Homo sapiens: one gene and its partner. The protein of the gene in region 1 interacts with the protein of each later gene in a biochemical or structural test. Each region holds a gene or a part of one and is shown in the gene's direction. Other genes may lie near its edges. The genes, in order: OPRM1 and DNAJB4.

Region 1 (3,854 bases):
AGAGAACAGAACAATGTTCTTCTATACAATGTAAGGAATCTATGAATAACATCGGCTTCTAAATCATAAGTTGATTTTTAACTACTGGGTTTAGGCCAGGCGGGCCCAGGCCTGGTTTCGGGCCTGGCGCTGAGCTGCCTGTATTTGGTTTTACTTCCTTGTTGTTTTTACTGAATATGAAACAATATAAAACAATGTGAGAGGGTCTTTCTCTCCTCTCAATGTCAACATCATATATGATTGGAGACTTCCACATAATTGAGTTTTAGTGCCCACTGTTACAGAAAATCATAATGGAAAAACTAAAATGTCAATAATAATTTCAGATGTGTATTTTAGTTCTCATAAGAACATCTACATTCATTTGAAAAATAGTTCTATATCTATTCTTGAAACATATTTCTTTAGTTCAAGGTCTGATGAGCTCCCAGACTGTTGGGGATTGCTCTACAGCTGCTCAAGCTTTTGAAGACTCCTGTGATTTTTTTAAATGGCTGGTTTGGTTGAAGTTTCTCTTATCAGTCAGGCACTTTGCATTTTAAGCGTACTTTACCACCGACACCCTCCCCCCCCAGCACACACACACACACACACACACACACACACACAACATAGTGAAATGGACCCGTGGGAATTATATGATAGTTGTAATCAAAATAAAATGCAATCAATACTAAAATACAATTTACCAAAGGCTTACCTCCTTATTTGAAACTCCAGCATCAATAATTTACTTGCACTCTTGTTATTTACATTTGTACTCTGGAAGTAAACTTAAAATGAAAATTAGAATTTGCTTTCAATTATACTATCTCTATCTAAATCTTAATTTGAAATTTAAATTATTTTGTCTCTACCCAAACCATCGATTTCATGGAAATGTTTAAATTTTCTTTTTTTTTTTTTTTTTTGATGGAGTCTCACTCTGTCGCCCAGGCTGGAGTGCAGTGGCTCAATCTTGGCTCACTGCAACCTCTGCCTCCCGGGTTCACACCATTCTCCTGCTTCAGCCTCCTGAGTAGCTGGGACTACAGGTGCCCGCCACAACACCTGGCTAATTTTTTGTATTTTTAGTAGAGATGGGGTTTCACCACGTTAGCCAGGATGGTTTCGATCTCCTGACCTCGTGATCTGCCTGCCTCGGCCTCCCAAAGTGTTGGGATTACAGGTGTGAGCCACTGCGCCTGGCCAGAAATGTTTAAAATTTCATAAATCTTGAATCCATAAAATTCAATGCTACCATTTATAATTTAATACTCCTACCATAAAAATTTCTGTGTTAGGCATAGCTATATGAATATTTGCCTATAAATCCCCATCAATTTAATAGGAATTAAGTTAGAAATACTAGTATATATATTCCCTTTATATACTAATTGTATATCCATATAAAAGCATTAGTACCATTATATGAAAGTATATATGCCATTCCATAAAAATATATCTACCAATATAAATAGAATATATAAAGGGAATATATATATACCAATATAAATGGGAATTTATATTGGCACATACATTTCCATTATTTTAATGGGAATTAAAGAAAAAATGCCTGTTTTCACTAAGTCATCCTTCCCCTGGCAATACATTTCCTGAACTTTTACATACTTAAATAGCCAGTTATGAAAATGTAAAACAATGAGTGATCTTGTTGTTTTCATTTTATTATGTTATATGAAAAAAAGAAACCTTGTAAGTGCAGATTTATTTTAAAAAATTGAAAAACTACTCTGTCAAACATAGCAAATAGGAAAGTTAAAAAAAAGTAAGTCTAAAGATTAGGTGCTCTGTCACTTGTCATTACATTTTTTTATAACATTAATGACACATTTTTTGCTATCCAAATATAATTTCCACTAGAAAAGAAAAGATGTCCTCCATGTTTTAAATTGCATTTGAAATTCAGGTAACTAATAACCCTTGGTTTTAAAAGATACATATAATGTTTCCGTAGGAAAAAAATCAAAATATTGTAAAGAATCTGAGTAAATGAGAGCCTCTCATGGTTGATTAAGTTCAGACATTTTAAACAGACTCCTGCCCACAAACTATTTTTCCTCTCCAGGAATAAGAATGGCAACTGAATTGTTCCTTCTTTATTCTATAGCTTTAAGTCAAACCTAACATAAGCAATCAACCCTTCCACCCATTGTCCTCTTTCTAGCTGCTTATATTCCTGAGTCTGAAAGAAGGGCAGAATTAATTCGTTTCCTTGACAGTGTTGGGGGTGAAATAAAAGATAGACCCCTGCTGCTCTGCACGTAGATTCAGTTTGTATGCCAGGGTGACATTTTAATTTACAGTAGTCCAGACACCTAAACAGGACATAGAAATGTCAACTGGTCATATTAAAATAAAAAAGTATAGAATAGTTTCTGTTTTACGGATTTTGTATCCAAGTAAATGAAAACACAATCACCTTTCAAAACATGGTATGAAATCCACAGTTGTAACAGTGAGCACAACATGCTTTCTGTGTGTGTTTTTAAGCTCTTTCCCCACATCTGCTTTTCAAAAATATTTGCCTGGAAACCTGTATTTCGCCTATAGAGACAAATACATATATTGTTTGTTGTGATAATGCACAAAAAGGAATGTTAAAAAAAAACACACAACATTGTTTTCCTTTTGATGGTCTGGGAGTTTTTCTATAAGTTTTTGGTTTTTTTTTTTTTTTCTCTTCATTAGTGTGTTAGTTCCATCATCATGTCTGTTTACTATTGAAAAATAAATATCTTCATTTAAAGTAGAGACAAAGCTACTATTTCACATTTCCAGGTAGGACAGGATGATCAGATGCAGCTTTCAAAAGAACTACCTGCTAAATCATAATGGTCTCATGTGCAGATCAAAATGTCAACTAGTATATCAAACAGTGAGCAATTCACTAAATTATTTTTACATTACTCCTATTTGACTGTTTCAGATAGTTGTATATAAAAAATATAAATTTTTGCATTGTATTGTTCTTGATGTACCAGCATACATAAACATATTAGGCTGTATTGTAAGTTTCCTGCATGTAATATGTAATGTGTAATTATATGTGATAAATAAAACCTAAAACTGATACAAATCTAGATTTTCCCTTGTCTTTCTCATTCTGACATTACTGACCTGTTTTAAAAGAATATTCCCCAAGTAAATGTTGCGACGTAGGTAAATAGCCTAAGAATTAGAGTAACAGACAACTTTGATACTAAATAAATACTTCAAAATAAAGAAGTGAACTTTCTCTCTTCATGAATTATTTCTATTTTTAGAACCAAAATGTCTCTAAACCTTGACAACCATAACTTCCTAAGCTAGAATTCTAACCAAACCATACAGAGAAGAAAAATATCCACTGTAAAGTCTATAGTTGAAAATATAGGCAGCTAAATCCACTGATAGTCTACTTTTTTTAAAAATGTGTTCTTGATGTTTTGAGCAGGAAAATTATTTGCAAGAAACAAAGAGTTTGATAAGGTGAAATTCAGAGCATGCTCTGGGTTGTTAGGTACAATTTTTTGAAGTGGAAACGTCTCAACATGAAAACACTTTATGGTAAGAAAAAAACGGCTGGGCGTGGTGGCTCACGCCTGTAATCCCAGCACTTTGGGAGCCTGAGGTGGGTGGATCACGAAGTCAGGAGATCGAGACCATCCTGGCTAACACGGTGAAACCCCATCTCTACTAAAAATTCAAAAAATTAGCCGGGCATGGTGGCAGGCACCTGTAGCCCCAGCTACTCGGGAGGCTGAGGCAGGAGAATGGTGTGAACCCGGGAGGCGGAGCTTGCAGTGAGCCGAAATTGTGCCACTGCACTCCAGCCTGGGCGACAGAGTGAGACTCCATCTCAAAAAAAAAAA
Region 2 (4,126 bases), on another chromosome or scaffold:
TTGGACTGTGTGCAATTCTTCTGACTTTTCTTATTTATCTCTCTAATAGAAATGGGAACATTTTTGAAAAGATGAGAAAACCATACAGGAGATAAAAGATGAGTTATATACATAGAAAATGTCTCATAAATACCTGAAATATGTTATACTTTCAAAAGCAGGCATCAAAAGGGTATATAAATGCTATGATCTAACTTTGTTAACAAAAAATTATAAAACTACAGCAAATAACCATGAAGATTTATAGAAAACAGAATTAGAAGTAAATACAGTAATATTTAACAGGGATTACCTAAAATGATATTATAGGGAGATTTTTAAAAACTTTTTTCTGCGTTTTCCAAAATCTCCAACAATGAATATATATTTATAATTAGGGAAATGTGTTTTTGAAAGAAAAAATATTTCTCATATTACTGCCCCTTAAGTGGCATATCCAAATTTTACATTGATGCAGTTGCAGTTAAGTCTTGTAAGGAACATGAGTATGTACTGTCTGTAACCTGATACTTTGTTCTAGCTTTCCTGCAGCACCACAGTTCTTTAAATAGGGATCCTGTGGGGCGGCTGCAGGGGACGGGGGTTGAGGGGTGGCAGGGACCTCATTCAGTTTTAGTTTAGTTGAAGTAACTAAGTTCAGATACTAAAATTTCAAAAATAAGTATTTGTTTGCCAGAACTATGAACTCATGTATACTAGAAATAACTAGTTAGCTAAAATCATGTTTAAGTCCTTTACTTATTTTAAAATAACGCATTTGAATTTTATTATAGATACTCCCTTAACAATGTGAAACTAGTACACAAACTTTCTGGCGTTTCTGATTGATAGACCCCAGGAATTTTGAAGACGACATAAATTACTTGGAAATCCTAATTTAAACAACCTGCGTTTTGGTATTATATACTTAACAGACAAATAGCTTAAAATTAAAAAATCCCTAAAGTAGAATTGTCGTTCCTTTTATCTGTATATTAACTTTAACTTCTTTTAACATAGGGTGTTTAATGACTGTGATGATTTTCACCTAGTATGGAGTACATAAATATATAGTTGTGACATTCTGTGTTGAAATATTGGCATGTTAACCCATTTGTCCTGTTTAATTAGGAAATAAAGACGGTAGAGCTAGTCGGAAAATGAATAGTTAATCGTGGAGGAGGAGAAAACATAGCTCAGTACTTTGACTAGAGGCAGCTGGGAAAGTGACGTCCTGTAGCATTTGCTGTTCTAGAAAGTACAGAGACACGTAGTGAAAATGGGAGGATCTAGAAGGAGGCTGTCTCCTGTGTAGTGTATATTTATCTGTAAGTGAGCCGTTGGGGAAGGATTGAATACAGAGACGCTGTCTGCTTGCTGCCTTAAGACAGCTAGCTGAATTGCTGATTAACTTTTAAAATACCCAGCTTGGTTTATTTTTCTTAGAATCTGTTGCTAAGACTGGGGACGCTGTTTTCTTTTACAAAGGGAAATCTAAGTTAATTTCAAGGCATTCGAAATGGGGAAAGACTATTATTGCATTTTGGGAATTGAGAAAGGAGCTTCAGATGAAGATATTAAAAAGGCTTACCGAAAACAAGCCCTCAAATTTCATCCGGACAAGAACAAATCTCCTCAGGCAGAGGAAAAATTTAAAGAGGTCGCAGAAGCTTATGAAGTATTGAGTGATCCTAAAAAGAGAGAAATATATGATCAGTTTGGGGAGGAAGGTAAGTATTCTCTGTATATCTTTCTGTCTCTTCAGCTCTGTCTCTTTTTTTTTTTTCTCTCTCTCTGCCAGCCTTTTTCCCCTCTCTCTCAGCTTGTTAAGGTTATCCTTAAATTGGATTCTCAGTCATATCAAAAGTAGAAGGACAAATGTATAATAACAAGGTTTCATCTCTGATCATATGAATGAGTATTGCAGAGCCATGAATGAAATGTCCTTGTTTGCCTTTTTTATTTTAGCATTTTGTATTATACATATTTTATCATTAGACTTACAATGTTAACAATGTATATTTTAAAATAAACCTTGAATTCCCATACCTATTAGTAAATTGTGTCAAAAGTCTTATGAAACCTGTTTCGTTTTCTAATGAATTTTCTGCCAGAACCAATAAAGAGTCTTTAGTCATTTAAAACCTTAAGATTGGCATTTCAGATTCTGAGTAGTTTATAGCTTATTCACAAAAACAAAAAGTAGTTTTTTGCCTTTCTTATAGCAAGGCTAGTTTAGACTGAACAAGACAGAGTTGTGACTCTCAGAAGCAGAAGGCGCAGGCATTTAGCTTCTAGTTGTTTTTGGCATTCTGCCTGGAGAGGAAAGAATTTTCCTGATGTCATAAAATACCAGAACAAGTTTTTAGCTTAATTGTAAACAATAATTTTGTGCCAAGAAAATGAAATCTCAGAAATACAATTTTTGACCTAAAATGGCCACCTAGTTAGAATAATTACTGATTTACTTTTAGATAACATTATTTATTTAGAAATTTTACTATCTAGGTATAGAGAAAAACATGACAACTTCCCTTTCCTCTCCCTGCCATACTTTTGTTTTTTGCATTGTGAGATCAAAAACTAGTGAGCACAGTAAAGGAGGATAATTTCAGATTATCCTTTTCTCATTCTGCATTTTAAATCAGGTTTGTCCATCACTTCCATATAAACGGGGCTATGAAGTAAGACTATTTTAAATTGCTAATTGATAACACAAAAAACTTTAACTTGTACTGTTTTGGGGATTTTCAACTTTTAACATCAGGACTAAGTTATTTTATTATTAGTTTTTCTCCCAAAATACTGGCTTTCAAATCACTGTAGCTATGAAAACTTGTTATCCCTTTGATTCCTTTATTACATTTAACATCAAATTTTCCTAATTAGAAATATATCCTTAAAATATAGTCAAGCAGTGACTGCTTATTTTGAATGAAACAAATTAAATGTAGACAAGCAGGGTGATTGTATATAGAGGGTTTTTTCCTTTTTGTTTTGTTTAGCTTTTTTGGTCTATGAGTTGCCCAAAATTGAAGTTTATGTTGCAGGTTTTGGTGTGGTGAGGACCTACAGTGTCAGGTTCTTACAAAGTAAATATTGAAAAAGGCAAATACTGGGCAGTTCAATCTTGCATGATACCTATGGCCATATTACCCAAAATATCATGACTTGGTTTATCTCAAAAGCTAAGCAGGATTCTGAGATACTACCAATAATGTACTACTATTTCTAAAGGAGTAATTTTGTAATTTTGTAAAGAAATTCACAAACATGGAATGACACTGTGAATTCCTGTGAAAAAGCAGATATCCACTGCTTTGTATTTAAAATATTTTGCAACAATTCACTGATAGCTCAAGTTTGTGGCTAAGCCATTGGATCCAGGGTTTAGTAAGGATATTTGTCTTCAGAATTTTCAAGTCACCAAATGATACATTTTTCTTGATTTAACATTATCTCTTAATAGTGCTTTTCTAGAGTGATTTTTCTCATTTAATTTTTATTGGTCATTACACAATGAGTGAATTTTTTAAAAACTAAATCACCCTGAATCTGTATACCCTGGGTTTTTTTTTTTAACTTACATAATTGATATAAGTGATAGAAGGAAAGAGTGAGGAGAGAATGCCTTTTTTAAAACATAGAAATATATTATGCAGAAATACCATTCTCTAGTTATAGGTTACTTGAAAATACAATTGAATGGGCCAGGCGCCGTGGCTCATGCCTGTAATTCCAACACTTTGGGAGGCCGAGACAGGCGATCACCTGAGGTCAGGAGTTCGAGACCAGCCTGGCCAACATGGTGAAACCCTGTCTCTACTAAAAATACAAAAATTAGCTAGGTGTGGTGGCAGACACCTCTAATCCCAGCTACTTGGAAGGGTGAGGTAGGAGAATCACTTGAACCCAAGAGGCAGAGGTTGCAGTGAGCCGAGATCGAGCCACTGCACTTCAGCCTGGGCGACAGAGCGAGACCTCATCTCAAAAAAAGAAAAGGAAAAAAAGAAAATACAATTGAATGAAAGTTATTTGAATTATTTTTTAGAATTATTCTTCCTTCACAGGAAAGTATTATATTTGTTTGCCGTTTATTCAGAATATCTCATTTATTCTATTAAAAAATCCCATTTAGATACACTGT

Evidence for each region.
Region 2: the proteins of OPRM1 (region 1) and DNAJB4 form a complex in vitro, tested with the Homo sapiens proteins (one study listed by BioGRID).

The regions. Positions count from the first base shown.
Region 1 is NC_000006.12:154,129,278-154,133,131, forward strand, and holds the end of OPRM1 (mu-type opioid receptor), read left to right. Parts: 3' UTR 1-3,079; downstream 3,080-3,854. UniProt on the Homo sapiens protein: Receptor for endogenous opioids such as beta-endorphin and endomorphin. Receptor for natural and synthetic opioids including morphine, heroin, DAMGO, fentanyl, etorphine, buprenorphin and methadone.
Region 2 is NC_000001.11:78,003,613-78,007,738, forward strand, and holds the start of DNAJB4 (dnaJ homolog subfamily B member 4), read left to right. Parts: upstream 1-1,326; 5' UTR 1,327-1,498; coding exon 1,499-1,709; intron 1,710-4,126. UniProt on the Homo sapiens protein: Probable chaperone. Stimulates ATP hydrolysis and the folding of unfolded proteins mediated by HSPA1A/B (in vitro).